2 linked regions of the Homo sapiens genome follow. The protein of the gene in region 2 interacts with the protein of the main gene of each other region in a biochemical or structural test. Each region holds a gene or a part of one and is shown on either strand. Other genes may lie near its edges.

Region 1 (8,575 bases), on a different chromosome or scaffold from region 2:
ACAGCAAGCGCAAAGGCACTGATGCAAGAGTGTTCACAGAATATCAAGAAGAAGAGCATGTTGGAGTATATGAATATACAGGAGAGGAGAGCCGTGGTAGAGAAAAGCTCTGAAAGCAAGTTGGGATAGCTTAGACTCAGTGAAATGATAGCAAACGATGAAATGAACAGGTAGTGGAAATTAACATTCACAGAATGCCTATCAAAGGGGCTAAGTAATTCCATAGGTTTTATAGTCAATTTTTACATCATTCCTGGAAAATCACTGTCATTATCATCATCACCACCAGCACTATCTTTTGCAGTTATAAAAACAGCAAAATTCAGAAAAATTGAGTAACTTCACCAGGATACACAGGAATAAGAGGCAGGACTAGGATAGGATATGAATTCAGGTCTAATGCTAAAACCCACATTAAGTTCTCTACATAATGTGCTGCTTCCCTCATCAACAAAGTCTTACTATGAAAACATCATTAGCTGAACTAACATTCTGATACAAGCTCTTTATGTTACAGACAGGGCACAAGTAACCACAGGCCAGCACTTGATGAGGTATTGCATTACACAGATGGGAAACACAGAAACTTTCTCACATCATAATAGTCTGACTTACCTATCTAATGTTGAATTTTCGTGTTCCCTTAATTTATCTATTACAGGTTGAATTCCTAACATCAGAAATTCATAGCGAAGATGAAGTCTAAAGTCCAAACTCTCCTGAAAGTAAAATGGCAATAAAATACATATTTGTGGTTTTTAGACTACATAATAATCACTTTTTATAAATTATTATTTACTAATATATTTTTAATTTGTAGAAGGTTCTTACCACTCCTGCACCTTGGCTGAGCACTGCATTAATGAAGGACATGATGGCAGTCTTGAGACTCACTTCATCTCGATACCGCCCAGTGCTTTTATCCAAGTCGTTAATTAATGTCTATCAAAAATAGAAAAACAAAGGACTGAAACGTTACTAACCTTATGCTCATTTTATGAATTTTTTTATACTCAAAAGTTAACTTTTTTTTTTTTTCAGACGGAGTCTTGCTCTGTTGCCCAGGCTGGAGTGCGGTGGCATGATCTCAGCTCACGGCAACCTCCACCTCCCGGGTTCACGCCATTCTCTTGCCTCAGCCTCCCGAGTAGCTGGGACTACAGGCGCCCACCATCACACCCAGCTAATTTTTTGTATTTTTAGTAGAGACGGGGTTTCACTGTGTTAGCCAGGACAGTCTCGATCTCCTGACCTTGCGATCCGCCTGCCTCAGCCTCCCAAAGTGCTGGGATTAGAGGTGTGAGCCACCAAAAAGTTAACTTTTAAAATCTTACGTTTAGACAGGATTACACTGACCCATAGAAAGCCACCCTTTTTCTCCTTAAGAACAGTCCTAAAAACTCTAATTTCAAAATTCTTACATCATACATACATGTATACAAAAGCCTTTGCTTCATTATCTCTGCTTGCTTTTTACATCCAAGTAATATAGTGAAATATGAAAAATTATTAATATTGATCCTAATTCAAGAATGGCAAGCTGTAAAATTTTCAGGGAACACCCAGTTTGGTGGGTTCAAAAGATGTGTGCTATATGACATATAGGATGCAAGACCACATTTTCAAGTTCTGCAAATCTAAAGGCCCAGATTCATCAACTATTGAAAGTATACTCTATTCTCTGGTTCTTAAACCTAAGAAGAAGGGAATGTTTAAAGTCACACTGTGAGTAATCACCACAAGAGGACATCTCAAGTAACATTCCCCTTTCAGGGACAGGAAAAGCACGTGTTTGAGCAGACTTTAAAGAAGGGGTGAGTGAAGAAGGCTGAGCGAACACCCACCTGAAAGCGGGTCCTTTCGCTGGCATACTTCTGGTAGTGCAGCATGGCCTGCAGAACCTTCTTGTGGCCCCCGGGAACCAGGCACACGGCGCCCAAGATTTCCAGCACGGCCACCTTCGTTTTAATGTTCTCTGTGCTCAGACTCTGAGCAATTACATTAATACTCTCAGAATGAGCCAGGACGTGAGCCCGGCCTTGAGAGTTGTTCATTAACGCCTTTATACAGCCAATGAGAGAAGTATGTATTCGAGACTCTGAGGTCTCGTAGTCCATGGTCTTTAGAAAGTTGAGGATACATGATAGGCCATCCAAGTCGATGAATCTGGTTACAAACCTGTCATGAAGAGAAATGCACCATGCTTAAGTGCCTTTGGGTTTTATAATAGCCCCTAACAGAAAAGTCTAGAGGGCAGGGGAAAGAAAGATTTAGTTCCTAAAGTGCCAAAAGGCTTACATTGATGAAGTCTTTTTAATTCTTTGCCTCTTCCTTGGCACAGACCCAATAGTCAGTTCTAACCAAAAGTGTGAAAAAAAACCCCTCCATTTGTGATAAACATATCTCAATGGGTACAAAGAACCAAACAACAGATCATATATTCATAAAAAATTAGAAGCAAGAGAATACTCGGAATACATATCTTGTCTTAGATTAAAACCATCTGCTGTTCCTGTGTTATTTAGCATACAGTTCCCATGCCCCCACCCCAATCCTTTTTTTTTTTTTCTTTAAGAGAGACAGGGTCTTGCTCTGTCATAGCTCACTGCAGCCTTGAACTCTTGGGCTCAAGTGATCCTTCCACCCCAGCCTCCCAAGTAGCCGGGACTACAGGTGCGTGCCACCATTCCCAGTCAATTTTTTCTTTTTAACTTTTTTTTTTAAGAGGTGGAGACTTGCTATGTTGCCCAGACTGGTCTTGAACTTGTGGCCTCAAGCAAACCTCCTGTCTCAGCCTCCCAAGTAGCTGGGATAGTGAGTGACCATGTCTGGCCCATGCGCTTTTATATGTTGATTGCTGACGCACTTTTAAGTGCTGATCACTGACCCAAACACCCTATCAATGAAAGTCAAAAGCTTCCTTAAATTCCAGGATATTTGCTTGTTGAACAAATGATAATCTACATCCCTAAGGTTTTGTGACAAAATTCTTCTCTTATATGACATGCTACATGGAATCTCAATATTCCATGTACACTGAATACAATAATAAAGCAATACTTTATTGTTGCATACTAACGTTATTAATATTTCTTACACTTAAGTTAATCAATGAGACTAACTCACAATGCACATGTACATATTAAAGCCACCGAAAAGTTCAGAAGTAACATAACCTGTTTATGTGATAAATTTTCCAAACTTATTTAGGCTTGGATATCGATTAACATCTGAGAGTGCAGAACATATTGAGAGAAATGCTGATACAGTTAGGATAGTCTAGATCTCTGTCATATAACTACACAGTATTTTTCATGAGTCAGACTTTTCTTAGTTTGCATTTTATAGTCAAATAAAGAAAGGGAATCTTTATTTTCTAGGCTTTTCACCCAACCACATGACCCAGATGTAGCCAAGCTCGTTAAACCAGTTGGCTTCATTCATAGCACCTGTGCTCATGTAATGTACTTATAAGAACCTCAGCATCTCAGCAAATCCTAGAGGCATTAAAGGAATGAAAGTGCAGGAGGCACAACATAGAAGCTGATTATCAGAGAGGAAATGAATCACTGTTGCCAGAAAGTGTACCCATCTTTAAAGAAAAGTAATACTTGTATTGAGAAATAATTCACATGCCATAAAATTCACCCTTTTAAAGTGTACAATTCAGTAGCTTTTAGTATATTCACAGAGCTGTGTGACCAACAACACTAGCTAATTTTAGAACAGTTTAATCACCCAAAGAGAACATTTTCCCCACTTCCTCAGCTCCTGGCAACCACTAATCTACTTTCTGTTTCTATGGATTGGCCTATTCTGGGAATTTCTTATAAATAGAATCATACAGTGTGTGGTCTCCTTTGTTACTGGCTTCTCCCACTTAGCATATTTCAAGGTCATTTCATGTTGTAGCATGTATCAGTACTTCATTCCTTTTTTTTGTAGCCAAATTATATTCCATTATGTGGATATATAACATTTCATTTATCCATTCATCAGCTGATCAATATACGGGTTATTTTCACTTCTTGGCTATCATGAATAATGCCGATATGAACATCTGCATACATGTTTTTGGGAGACATGTCTTCATTTCCCTTGGCTACATTCCGAGGAGCAGAATTATTGAGTCATATGGCAACACTATATTTAACATTCTGAGAAACTGTTAAAACCCTTTTCCAAAGTGGCTTCACAATTTTACATTCCTAGCAGCAATGAATGAGGGTCCCAATTTTTCTACATTCTTGTCTACTAACTTACCATTGTTAAAGTCTCTCTCTGTTTTGTTTTTTTTTAGCCATCCTAGTGGCTGCCTACATACCTTTTCACAGAAGAAAATAACTTTATTAAATGTTAATGATTAAAGTATGTTATGGTTTAATTTTATGGTTTTAACTTAAGACTTCCTAGAAGGTTTGACTATTGCAAAAAAAGGAAGGAAGGAGAGAAAAAAAAAAAACATGCCATCCAGGGGAAAATTACCTCATTGGTTTTGTCCTCAGTGCTGTCTTTAAACTCTCTATAGTTTTACTTCTTTCTTCTTCTTCTTCCTTCTCTAAAGCCAGCAGAGATTTTCTCTATGCAAAGAAAACAGAAGTTACTTCTTCAAATTCTATTTTTTAATTACAGTACAAACAAGACAAACCTACAGATTATTTGTCACTATCACTTTAAATATAAACAACAAATCTATGATTAAGTAAGTTAAGTCTTTCAAATTTTAAATAAAGCCTTAGGGAAAAGTTTAGAAATCTTCGTAGAGATGACGTTGCCCAAATGCTTGTATAACTATTCTATAATTACACTTTGATGTAGATACTACTACTTGTATTTGATAGAAATAAGACTGAACCTGTAGTTGAATACAACATTCTGGCAATTAAAGATAATAATACCATCACATTATCAAAAACAGGAGGTGGGCAGCAGTCCTCCTATGCTACCATTCCTATTCCTCAGCCAAAAAGTGTAATCAAGACCAAAGGGATTTTGTTACATCTAATTATTTTTTAAGAGGAAAAATTAATTTGGAGCTATTACTAGGATAGACAATTCCTTCAGAGTAAATGCGTAACTTCTAGAAATTATTCAACATCATTTAGAAATCAGGATATGGAGTGAGTGTGTGTGTGTGTGTGTGTGTGTTTCTACCCAGGGATCTGCTAGAGCAGTGCTTCTCAAACTTTAATATGGATATGAAAATCACCTGAGGATAGTGTTAAACTATGGAGCCTGGTTTGGTATGTCTGGGGTGAGGTCTGAGATGTTGCATTCCTGACAAATTTCTAGGCAATGCTGATGCCGCAGAAGCAAGGTTCCATGTAAGATTGCAGTTGTTATTATAAAATTGAGAATGCCAGTAAGGTGTCTAGACCTTTCCATTCCCTTTCACTCTGTGATCACCTGGTTGCACTAAAGTACCCCAAGTCTTATGACTCCAGGATCCTCCATCCATGGAGCTCCTGGTCCCTTTTCTTCATCCTATTCTGAACACACGCTTGTCTAGTTTAATCTTTTTACCTATTACAAATTCTGATAGAAATGCTTGGCTGAGAAACAGATTGGGGTGACTGTATTGAAAAAGAAAAGCTTGACTCATATCCATGGGTCTCAATGACCCAGTCTCAGCCTTTCTTTCAGGACCATAACTCATCAAGAGTGACAATCAATAGTATCAGCATTAAGTAACTAATGTTAACTAAAAGCTAAATATGATTTCATAATGAGAAGGGTAAAGATCAAAGCAAAATAAATATAATACATCAGTATCATTTATGGCAACTGAAATAAAACCCAGTAGTTTTTTCGGTCTTTAAAATCTTGTTATTGTTTCTGCAAAGTTGTCCTCTTGCTGGTGATGCTCACAGACAGCTGTCACCAGGGGATGGTGAGTAAGGAAGCTGGGTGCAGAGACAGCCAATGAATTCTCCCAAAGCTCCCTGAGACCCATCCCCTGGAAAACTCACACAAATCCAGCCAAGAACGTTTAATCTCCAATGACATAGCTGAACTCGTTTGGACTCTTATGCAATCACTTTGAATCTGTAGCTCAGAATCCAGCCTTTTATGAAGATCATTCCTTGTTCCTAAGCTTAATGACACAAAACTATCCCCAAATTAATGACTACACATTTTACTGCGGGTCACTAGTACAAATAAAACTGCATGTATTTATCCTTTTAAAAATCCTGGAGAGGGTGGCACATTTGAATAGCAGCAGTCTATATTAAGTTTCTCCATACTAGAGTTGGGAGATTTATGAAATGTCAAAGAAAATTAAGTTGGAAATTCCTTTCCCAATACTGTGTAAGGAACATAACCTTTCAAAACAGAAAAGACTACAACATTTTCTATGTGTGATTTTTCAGATTTGGTTCTGAGATTATATTTATCGTGCTGAGATAACTGAGGATATGTAGCTGAACTTGATGTTCTAAATGTGACTTTTCAAAATAAAATAATTTCTACAAAGTTTAAAGCTTTCAAGCCTCACATTTAGGAAGAAGGTTTAATTTGCAACTTTTAGTAGATAAGGGAGATGCCTAGATTTCTGAAGATGATTACTATGCCAAATATCTAGTATGCACAGGCCTTGTGGAGGCTTCTTTGAATGCTCTATGCACTTACTAAATACCTGCTCACATGAGAAGCAGGCAAAGGACAAAGCGCATCCTTGCAGAGGGTCTTTCTGTCAAAGCTGCTAAGGTGTACATTGGAACACGCGGGTCTGACAGAGAGGCACAAATGTGGCCCAGAGGTCATTCCTGCTGGGAGTCTGGAACTTAGCTCCCGTTTGAATCGTTTCTTTGGTGGGAAATCAATAAGCCAGTCCACTAAGCATACTGAACTTCACCTCACAGTCTTCCTCCTTGAGAAAGCATGGAGAAACCACATATAAAGAAAGCCCAGGTCCTTCTAGATGTTAGGCCACACTCTTTATTATACTATTTTTCACTCTTTAAAAGCCAACAGATCACTCAGGGGTCCTTTAAAGAACAAAGCATTCTTGTAATGAGGCTTACATAAAGTAATTGAACTTGTTCCAAAAAGGCTGGCTTCACAGACTAGTAAGTGCTGCAGTTCTCCACCTGGACTGTTTATCAGACTCTTAAGACATTAAAGAAAACAGAAGCCTATCCCATCTCAGAAAAGTCAGGCTTGCTAGGCCTGGGGGTGGGGAGAAGGTGGGATAACCAGGGCTCTTTCACATGCCACAGGGTTTCAAAAACTGAATTAGTGAGAGGCAAATTGGAAAGGAGTCTTTGGGCTTAGACGGATACATTTAAATTCCCAATTAGATGACCACCTCCTAATTAGATAACCTTGGGCAAGGTAACCTTTCTGGAGTCTCAGACTCCTTATCTATAAATAGCACTTACAGCATAGGATGCTGGTGGGACCGCAAACAACATATGAAGTGCCTGTTACCCTGCTTGTCATGTAGTAGTTGCTGCTGATTCTGCAGACAATGGGTGATGACAATGTGGACAAACACTCCTTCAAGAATGCCCTAAGCAGACAACCAAAGAGTCTAGCTGCTGGGCCATGAAAGGATTTGGAGAACTTGTGTGCCTTTCCACTGCTCCAGGTACAATATCTCAGGATTTCTGCTGTGTGTTATCAAGAATTCTCCAGTACAGACATCATAGTGATTAGCCAGAACTATGCAAGGCGGTGGTGGCAATCAGAATGTTGAGAAAAACAGAAAACTCAGCATAGGGTTTCTGGTCTCATCAGATCTCCTTATTCCCTGAAGTATGCAGGAATTTTGAGGCCTCACTAATTCATGGACTATTAATGCCTTTTACCTTTGACCCTGGAAAGATGTTGGCTCAGTCCTAAAAGGAACATTAGAAAGCTTTCTTAGGTGTTTGACACAAAAAGTATAGCAAAGTCACTGACAATTTAATAGACTTGTGGTGCTCTTGGGAAGGATTTTGGATTGGGAACCAAACACACAGCAGTTAAAATGTAGATCACTCAAGAATGTGGCAAAGAATTGTCCAAGGAGCTGGATGGAGGAGAGAGGAGGCCCTTAAAGAAGGGCCACATGTTGGCACATCACAGACCCTGTAGCACACAAATGAACCAGGTCTACTTCAGACAAGGCAGGGATTAAGTCACTAAAGGACAAATTAATCTAACTGTCCTATACTTGAAGAAAGGAAAAATCCATACAGTACTTAGTAGTTCCCCATTTATAGAAGGGAATTCATTAACAAATAAGCAACTTCTCATTAGATAACAAACATGCAAATTTAATTAGAAAGAGAAACAATTCTTTTTTTCCTAACAGCCAGGAACAAGAATTCAGAAAATAGCCTTTATATGCAGGAAATATAAATGGCTCCAAATTATTATTGCTTAGGCAGATGCACAGAAAATCCCTGGTGGTCATCACAAATCTCACATTCTGTTAGCATATTCATACAAATGCTGAGATCACCCTTTTCTCATCTTTGGCATTGTGTGAGATGCCTTGAATAAGAAGGATTTGGTGGTTATTTTCTGTCCATTTCTGCTATGCTTTTAGACTAGAAACCCTTGGGGAAAAACTTATGTAGTTTCTTCT
Region 2 (8,668 bases):
ACCTCAGGTGATCCACCCGCCTCGGCCTCCCGAAGTGCTGGGATTACAGGTGTGAGCCACCGTACCCAGCCTAATTTTTGTACTTTTAATAGAGATGGGGTTTTACAGTGTTGGCCAGGCTGGACTCCTCCTGACCTCAAGTGATCTGCACACCTTGGCCTCCCAAAGAGCAGGGATTACAGGTGTGAGCCACCACGCCTGGCCAATAGTGAGGAAGTTCTTACGAGATCTGATGGTTTAAAAGTGTGGTGCTTCCCCCTTCTCTCTCTCTCCTGCTGCCACATAAGAAGTGCCTTGCTTCCACTTCACCTTCCACAATGATTGTAAGTTTCCTGAGGCCTCCCCAGCCATGCAGAACTGTGAGTCAATTAAACCTCTTTTCTTTATAAATTACCCAGTCTCGGGTAGTTCTTTATAGCAATGTGAAAATGGACTAATACACCCAGCCCCTCCGCAGCTTCTGACCTTTGTCCTAGAGTAGGGGCCTGTCATTGTGAAGGGCACTGGTGCCCTTGCATCTGAGCTCCCAGCTTGACCACCCACTCAGTCACCTTCTTGATCTGAGCTGCAAGGCAGCCTGCTGGAAATCTCTTGGGAGACATGTTTCAGTGCTTTGCAAATGCCCATGGTAATGACACCACCACCCACCATTCTCTAAGGATCTTCTGTGTGTGGCTGTGTACTGGCACCATCTCCGATCCTTGCAAGCTCGGAACGTCAGTACAACCTTCACTTTCTGATGATGCCCAGAGAGAGGAAATGACTTGTTCAAGGTGACACACTGAACAGCTGGCTAGTGACAGAGCCAGGTCTTTGTGGCTGCAGAGACCAGGCCTTGTCCTCAGCCACCTGCCTTTCCTGAGGTTACCAACTCCAGTTCCCGGAGACAGAAAGGGGCTGGGTTTCCCCTCTGGCTTGTAACTGTCACAGCCCTTTCCCCCACTCGGGACGTCATCCTAGAGACTCTGTCTGTACCTTTTGTTGTGTTGTTCTTTGACCCCCAGGCAGGGTCACCCTCTGTCCATGGGATCAATGGCACCTAATTTTATCTGTTAAGCCGTCCTCAGCCAGAAAAGAAGGACTGGGCCTGTGCTGGACCAGGACGGAGATGACTCAGGCTCAGGTCTGCCCTCCAGGGGCTCACAGACAGAAAATGAATCATTACCAAGATGGGGGACCTGGCTCAAGAGGGAGTGTCGGGGCATCCCTGGTTAGGACACCCATGGGAGTCCAAGTGCGAACCAGGAAGGACCCAGGGGGCTCTAGCCAGCAGGGCCGGGTGCTCCCTGCCACCTCCTATCCCCATGCTGGTGTGGGGGCTGCTAGGCTTTGAACCTGTGGGAATGGTTGCAGCCACAAATGCCAGCCAGGACTGGGCAGAGGCTGGCACCCCAGCCTGGGGCTTCCCCCTGTCCTAGGAGCTCTCTCCACCTTGCCCTCCCCTGCTGCCCTGAATCCAGGGTTGGGTCACAGCCAGATGAGGGTCACTGAGGTCCCTCCAAATCCTCAGGCTGCTCTCAGCCCTTTGCTGTGTGCAGGAAGTCTGGGAGATGGGACTCCAGCCTCCTGGCTGCTGGCCCCTTGGGCTTCGAGGGCTGCCTAGAGGAAGAGTCTGGTGCTAGGGACAGGGGCAGGAGGAGGCTGGGTCCAGCAGGCAGAGCACTGGGGGCTGTGGAGAAGGCCCTGGTCGGGAGGGGGAAGACCTGGGCTCTAGATCAGTGCTGCCACTGCCGGGCCATGTGCCCCCAGGTAAGCCTCTGGGTTCTGGACTCAGTTTTCCCATCTGCAAAATGAAGCCTTTCCAACTCTTACACGTTGTGGGTTCTTTTAATTAATTTATTTAATTACATATATATATATATATTTATATATATTTTGAGACGGAGTCTCGCTCTGTTGTCCCCGAGCTGGAGTGCAATGGCGCGATCTCGGTTCACTGCAACCTCCACCTCCTGAGTTCAAGCGATTCTCCTGCCTCAGCTTCCCGAGTAGCTGGGATTACAGGCGCCTGCCACTATGCCCGGGTAATTTTTTTTGTATTTTCGGTAGACATGGGGTTTCACCATGTTGGCCAGGCTGGTCTTGAATTCCTGACCTCAGGTGATCCACCCACCTTGGCCTCCCAGAGAGCTGGGATTACAGGTGTGGGCCATTACGCCCGGCCCATTGTGGGTTCTTTAAATGAAGAGGACTCTCCTGCTCCAGGGAACTCAGAGCCCCCAGACGGGAGGAGCCTGGACAAATCCAGCCCATTTTCCTGGTGATAAGCATGCCCTCCCCCCATTTCTGGCCAGCCCCAGCATGTCCCTCAAAGCATTCACATCTTATCAACTGGAAGAGGCCCATTTCCACGTCATAACTCCTCTGAAGTTGGGATGGTCTCACCATCAAGGACATCTCAGAGCTGGTGGTGAGGCATCAGCCCTCCAGCCCCCGCCCATCAGGTGCCTTCCCCTGGGCCTGGGCCACCTGTCCCTGTGTGGTGCTCTTCCCCGGGTGCCCTCATTGTTGGGTTCCCATGGGCAGCATCTAGGGGCCCAGAAACATGTTTCCCCCAACTTAAAAAAATGTATGACTGGTCAAAGGAGGTGACACCAGCTCCGCAAGCTACTAAACAAAAGTGGCTCAATGCCACTGCAGCAGAAAGCACATGGGCCAAGGGTGGGAGACAGGCAGACAGATATCATCCTGATAAGAACTACAGTGTGATAAGAACTGGGGTAGGCCCGACCGTCCTGCTTGTGCTCAGATGCTCCAGCACCTATACAACCCCAGGGGCTTAGAGGATGCTGGGAAGAAAAGGAGGAAGAATGCCAGTTGCGGTGGCTCAGGCCAGTAATCCTAGCACTTTGGGAGGCCGAGGCGGGCAGATCGCTTGAGGCCAGGAGTTCGAGACCAGCCTGACCAACATGGCAAAACTCCATCTCTACTAAAAATAAAAAAATTGGCTGGGTGTGGTGGCTCACACCTGTAATCCCAGCATTTTGGGAGGCCAAGGTGGGCGGATCACCAGGTCAAATGATCGAGACCATTCTGGCCAACATGGCGAAACCCTGTCTCTACTAAAAATATACAAAAATTAGCTGGGCACGGTGGCACGCGCCTGTAGTCCCAGCTACTCGGGAGGCTGAGGCGGGAGAATCGCTTGAACCTGGGAGGCAGAGGTTACAGTGAGCCGAGATTGTGCCACTGCACTCTAACCTGGCGACAGAGCGAGACTCCGTCTCAAAAATAAAATAAAATAAAATAATTTTAAAAATTAGCTAGGCGTGGTGGTGGGCGCCTGTAATCCCAGCTACTTAGGAGGCTGAGGCAAGAGAATCGCTTGAACCCAGGAGGCGGAGGTTGCAGTGAGCTGAGATTGTGCCAATATCACTCCAGCCTGGGTGACAGAGTGAGACTCTTCTCAAAAAAAATAAAAATAAAAAAAAAGAAGAGATGCTGGAAGCAACTCCATGGACTCCCAGGACAACAGGGCTGAGAGGCGGCAGAGCAGGGGCCGCCTGGTGCCCGTGGAGTCTGCCTGGGCAGTCAGTGAGCATGTCAGGAAGGATTAACGGTGGGCATGCCTACAGCGCCAAGGACATGCCAGCTACCGCACGGGAGCTGCCTGTCAGCCTCCCCTGGGCTCCACTTCACCACTGCCCTACAGTCCCTCTACCCCATGGGGTTGTTGTGAGGAAACTGAGGCTCAGAGAAGCTAAGCAGGTTACAAAAGGGCACGGGGCTCAGAGGAGAGCAGAGACGCGGGCCCAGCAGCTGAGGCTACAGCTGGCGTGCTCCCACCCTCCAAGGCAGAGCCCATGGCATGTGCTTTCCAGCGGCAAGAGCTGGAAGGGAGACAATGTTTCCCAGGAGCGACATGTGCCAACTCTCCGTGAGTCCTTCCTGTGCACAGGCCGGGGCTGAGTGCTTGAGGTCTATTAACTCTCTGTCACAGTGACCCTGTGTGGTGGGCACTGTCACTCACCTGTGATGTAGTGAGGGACACAGGCACAGCAGGGTTAGGGGACTTACCCAAGGGCACACAGCTATAAGAGGCAAAGCCATAATTTGAACCTCGGCAGTCTGGCTTCCAAGCTCTCAGGCCCTCAGCGGAATTGTGTGGCCAAGTGCTGTCTTAGGATCTTGTGTGCACCCAGGTCGCCTCACTCAGTCCTTGTGACACCTCTCCCCGGTGGATGCCATTCCTCCGGCTTTACAGATAACATCACTGAGGCCTTCATTCCCAATGGCTGGGGCGGAAGAACTCTGCCCTGGACCCCAGGCCCCGCTGGGACACCCCTCGGAGGCCGGGTTAGGCGCACAGCCTGGGCCGCTCCGGCACGGACCTGTACACCCGGGCGCGCGAGCGGAACCGGGCGAGGCGGAGGCGCGGGGCACTCACCTCGGGGAAGGCCCCATCGGCGAAGACCATCAGCAGCGACGTCTTCCCGCAGCCGCCGTCGCCCACCAGGACCACCTTGACGGACCGCACGCCTGGTGGCGCCTCCTCACCCGCGGCCTGGGCCGCCGTCATCCCGGGGCCGGGCGCTGAGCGGGCGGGCGGGCGGCTGCGGCGCAGAGACCCAGACTGCGCGGGGCAGGCCCGGCGGGGCAGGAATGTGGAAGGGGCGGGGCGGCGGGAGGAAGTGCGAGCCGGGCGCCCCGAGAGCCAGGTGAGAGGCCCGGGCGGCTGGGCTGGGGCCCTTCCTCTCCAGGCCGTCTAGGTCCCTGAAGAAACGCTGCCCGAGCACCTACTGTGAGCTGGCCGCGCTGGGGCCACGGGAGGTCGGAAGGGAGAAGACAAACAGCGGGACCATGACAGTGGGGGCGGGGGTGTGCTCAGGGGCTGGGTCCCAGATCCCAGGCAGGAGCCAGTGACCTTTAGTGAATGAATGAATGAATGAATGAATGGTGCATTTCCCCAGGGGTCTCAGGACGCAGCACAACACAGGCGTTTCATGCCAGGTGGGAAGGGGATGACCCCCTTCACTGGCCCCACCAGGCCTGGCCTGCCCCCTCCCGCAGCACCAGGAAGCTCTGCTGCAGGTGGGCAGCCACCTGACACCGTGGCTGGCCACGATCTAGGGAAAGCGATAGAACCTTCCCTCTGTAAAGTGTGAGTGTTTCTTATTATTGCACCATGAGATGTCCCCCTGGTGCCCAAGGGCCCGGGGACCCTGAACTGTTTAAGACAAAATCCAGGCCCTGCCTTGAGAAGCCCACGGCTTAGAATGGTAGACACGCAGGACATCAGTGTGATCAGAACTACAACGGGAGTAGGGACAGGCAGCGGGACGGGAGTAGGGGAAAAGAGCTCCTCGCCCACGTTGAGGGAGTCAGGAAACCTTTCAGAGTCTTGAGGAAAAAGTGAAACACAGTCAGATGGGGGAGGGAAAAGGTGTTCCACCGGAGACAGCGGCACGTGCGAAGCTGCGGAGGCCGGAGCGGAATGCTGCCCCCCCACCCCGCCCCCGCAGAGGGTGAGGCTCGCTTGCACAGTGGTGCAGCATGAGGAGCTGGTGCTTGCTCAGTGGAGCACGTTGGATGCCAGCAGTAAATCCAGCATTGAACTGGGAACTCATTGTCACCTGATCTCTCCACTTCTCCTAATGGCCAGAGTTGAAATCTTTTAAAAATGGGCACAAGGGTCTTCCCAGATCTTGGACTGAGTGTTTCTATTGAAGCTTAAAAGAACAAGGGGCAGACGTCATTAGGTTCCCCCTAATTTATGCTGGTCATGACATCCCCCCTCATGGAGTTCCAAGTCAGGCAGGTGAAAAAGCACCTTCAACCTCCTTTAAACTCACTGTGGTCTAAAGAGGCAGCCAGGGCAGGAGTCACTAGGTGGAGAGGCAGAGCCCAGCTCCTTGACTCCTCTGCCCGGCTCCCGCTCCGGGCTGTGGTCTGCAGGCTGGATGGAGCCCCACTTGGAGGGAAGGATCCTCCCCAGCACAGCTCTGCCTTTCCAGGTGCCCCTTCCTCCCCGAAACTGCCACAGGGCTCGGCAGTGACTTGACACTGGGCTGGGCAGGTAGCTCCAGAGCAGGGCTCCCCGCCCCAAGGAGTGGTGAGAGGGGCCCCACCCCCTCGGATCAGCTGTCAGCATCTTCCTCCCAACTGCTGCTGTCGTCAGGCCTTGGGTGGCAAGGCTGGAAGGCAGGTGGGGCCAGACTGGGGGTGGAGGGAGCTGAGAGTCAGGCAGAGGCGTTTGGCCTTGGTTGCTATAGGGATAATCTCTGTAATGACACACTTGATGTTTGTCATGCTATACAGTTTCACTGAACATTTCCTAATAATAACAACACCCATTAGTGGATTGCAAGCCACGTGTAGGCACTGTTCCCTAGGAGGTAGGGACTCTTAGCTCCATTTCACAGATGAGGAGCCTGAGGCCCAGAGAGGCTAAGTTGTTGACTAACATCCACAGCTAGTAAGAGGCTGAACTAGAATTTGGATCCAGGCGTGACCCCAAAGCCAGGTGGTCTCCCTCCATCACGCCTCATCTGCACAATTGCAATTTCATTTAGCTCTCAGACCACGAGGTAGACCAAGCAGATGACCTGCTTCCTCCCATTTTACAGATTTGGGAACTGAGCCTCAGAGAGAGGCAGAGGGGTGTCTTAGACCAGCAGGACACAGCAAGGATTCAATCTCCTGACGTCAAGCCCCAGCCTCCGCTCCCCCACCATGCTTACGCTCCTGCGAGAGGGAGCTTAGTCACCAGGCCACAGAAATCGGCTCTGGTTGGCAGGGAATGTCCCTGAATCTCAGACATTGCTGGACCTGGGACCATACTGTTTTCCTGGAATTTATTTTTAGAGTGGTGGCCCAGGTCACACAGTCTGCCTGGCCAGGGTACTGTTTACTGTTTTAGTGTTTACTGAGGCTTCTCAGGACTTGCAGCCTGTGGGAGACTTAGGCCCCTCGAGGCCCCACCAACCCCAGGCCCAGATCTGTGGGGAGCCCAGCACCGTGGCCTACTGCCCTGAACCCTTCAAGGGCAGGGGCCAAGGCTCACCGTATCCCCTAGAGGAGTGCCTCTCTCAGGCTGGCACCCAGCTGTGGCTCAGGACGGTATGCCCAGTTGATCTCCTGGCCAGACAAACCAAAGGGACAAGAAAGAAAAAAACAGAGTGAGAAAGAGAGGAAGGAAAGACGGAAGGATGGACGGCAGAGGGGCTGGCTTAGAAGAATAAACAAACTGAAGAAATGAATAAAGGAACAAATACTTGCATGGATGACGAATACCACATGTGACATGAATGGGGAGTCTGTGGACAGGCAACCACTCTCCAGCCTCCGCCTACTCCAAGGCCCCCTGGCCTCACCCCTCTCCCCATTTTCTCACATCCCACCCCCATCCTAAGGCCAAATCCTATGCGGTCCTGATCGAGTCTCCACTGCCCTCATGTGGTCGCTCAGCTCCCTGCACAGTCATCACCTGGGGCTGCCTCCCTGCTTGGGGTTCCTGGCTTGGGGGTGTGGGGTGTTTGTGGATGGCTGAATGAAGGGGAGAGATACAGTCTTTCCCCTTGGAGTGGCTTGGCAGGGTGCACGGGCCCTGGTGTGTAGCTCCCGAAGCTCTTGGTTCCGCGTGCATCCCCTGTCCTCTGCTCTTTTTTTTTTTTTTTCCATGGGGAGTCTTGCCCAGGATGGAGTGCAGTGATGTGATCTCGGCTCACTGCAACCTCCGCCTTCCGGGTTCAGGCGATTCTCCTGTCTTAGCCTCCTGAGTAGCTGGGATTAGAGGCACCTGCCACCACGCCCAGCTAATTTTTGTATTTTTAGTGGAGACGGGGTTTCACCATGTTGGCCAGGCTAGTCTCAAGCTCCTGACCTCAGGTGATCCACCCGCCTCGGCCTCCCATAGTGCTGGGATTATAGGCGTGAACCACCGCGCCCGTCCCTGGCCCACATTCATCTGAAATACTGGATCCTAAGAGCCTTTGCCCTCAGCCTGAACTCCTCCACCCAAAGCCTTGACCTCGCATTTACTGAGCACCTACCTGTGCCGGACACTTGGCACATGTCATTTCATGCCATCCTATGAAGTATGTTCAATTCTTATCCTCCTTTGACAAGTGAGGAAACTGAGGCCCAAAGAGGTTGGATAATTTGCCCAAGGTCCCGCAGCTAGTAAGCAGAGAAGCTGGGATTTGGACCCAGGCCCTTGGGCTCCGGAGTCCATACACACAGAATGTCCAAAAGTCAGAGGTACAGGGCTCTTTAGAGGCCATCTTATCCAACACCCCCATTCTTCAGATGGGGAAACTGAGGCCTGAGAAGGGAAGGAACTTACACAGCAAGTGAGCAGCAGACTCAGCTTTACGCCAGGTGGAAACCAGAGGGCCTCTGCTCCCAAGTTTCTTTTTGTCTAGCCTGCCCAGACAGCTCCAGCCTGGCTGCCATCTAACTGGAGCCCCAGGCCACGGGGACGTGCCCTCCTGCCCTGGCCTCCTCTCCCTGCCAAACCATTATTGATCTTTCAGGTTGGGACGGAAGGGCTGATAATAGGGTGGGAGGGGTGGAGAGAGAGGAGGTCTGGTGGCCCCATCCTGGTGCTTATTAAGCCTTTTGATTTGTCCCTTTTGGGGGTCTGCAGGCACAGACAGATAGAAGAGAGGAAGGGAAGTTTGGAGCTTAGAGCTGCTGCCGACCGTGATGCAGTGGCTTGCTCTGCTTC

Evidence for each region. The genes of interacting proteins can lie anywhere in the genome.
Region 1: the proteins of RHOD (region 2) and DAAM1 form a complex in vitro, tested with the Homo sapiens proteins (one study listed by IntAct).

Annotation. Positions count from the first base shown.
Region 1 is NC_000014.9:59,316,495-59,325,069, reverse strand, and holds part of DAAM1 (disheveled-associated activator of morphogenesis 1), read right to left. Parts: intron 4,581-8,575; coding exon 4,486-4,580; intron 2,179-4,485; coding exon 1,845-2,178; intron 943-1,844; coding exon 832-942; intron 720-831; coding exon 616-719; intron 1-615. UniProt on the Homo sapiens protein: Binds to disheveled (Dvl) and Rho, and mediates Wnt-induced Dvl-Rho complex formation. May play a role as a scaffolding protein to recruit Rho-GDP and Rho-GEF, thereby enhancing Rho-GTP formation. Can direct nucleation and elongation of new actin filaments.
Region 2 is NC_000011.10:67,052,754-67,061,421, reverse strand, and holds the start of RHOD (rho-related GTP-binding protein RhoD), read right to left. Parts: upstream 4,576-8,668; 5' UTR 4,520-4,575; coding exon 4,388-4,519; intron 1-4,387. UniProt on the Homo sapiens protein: Involved in endosome dynamics. May coordinate membrane transport with the function of the cytoskeleton. Involved in the internalization and trafficking of activated tyrosine kinase receptors such as PDGFRB.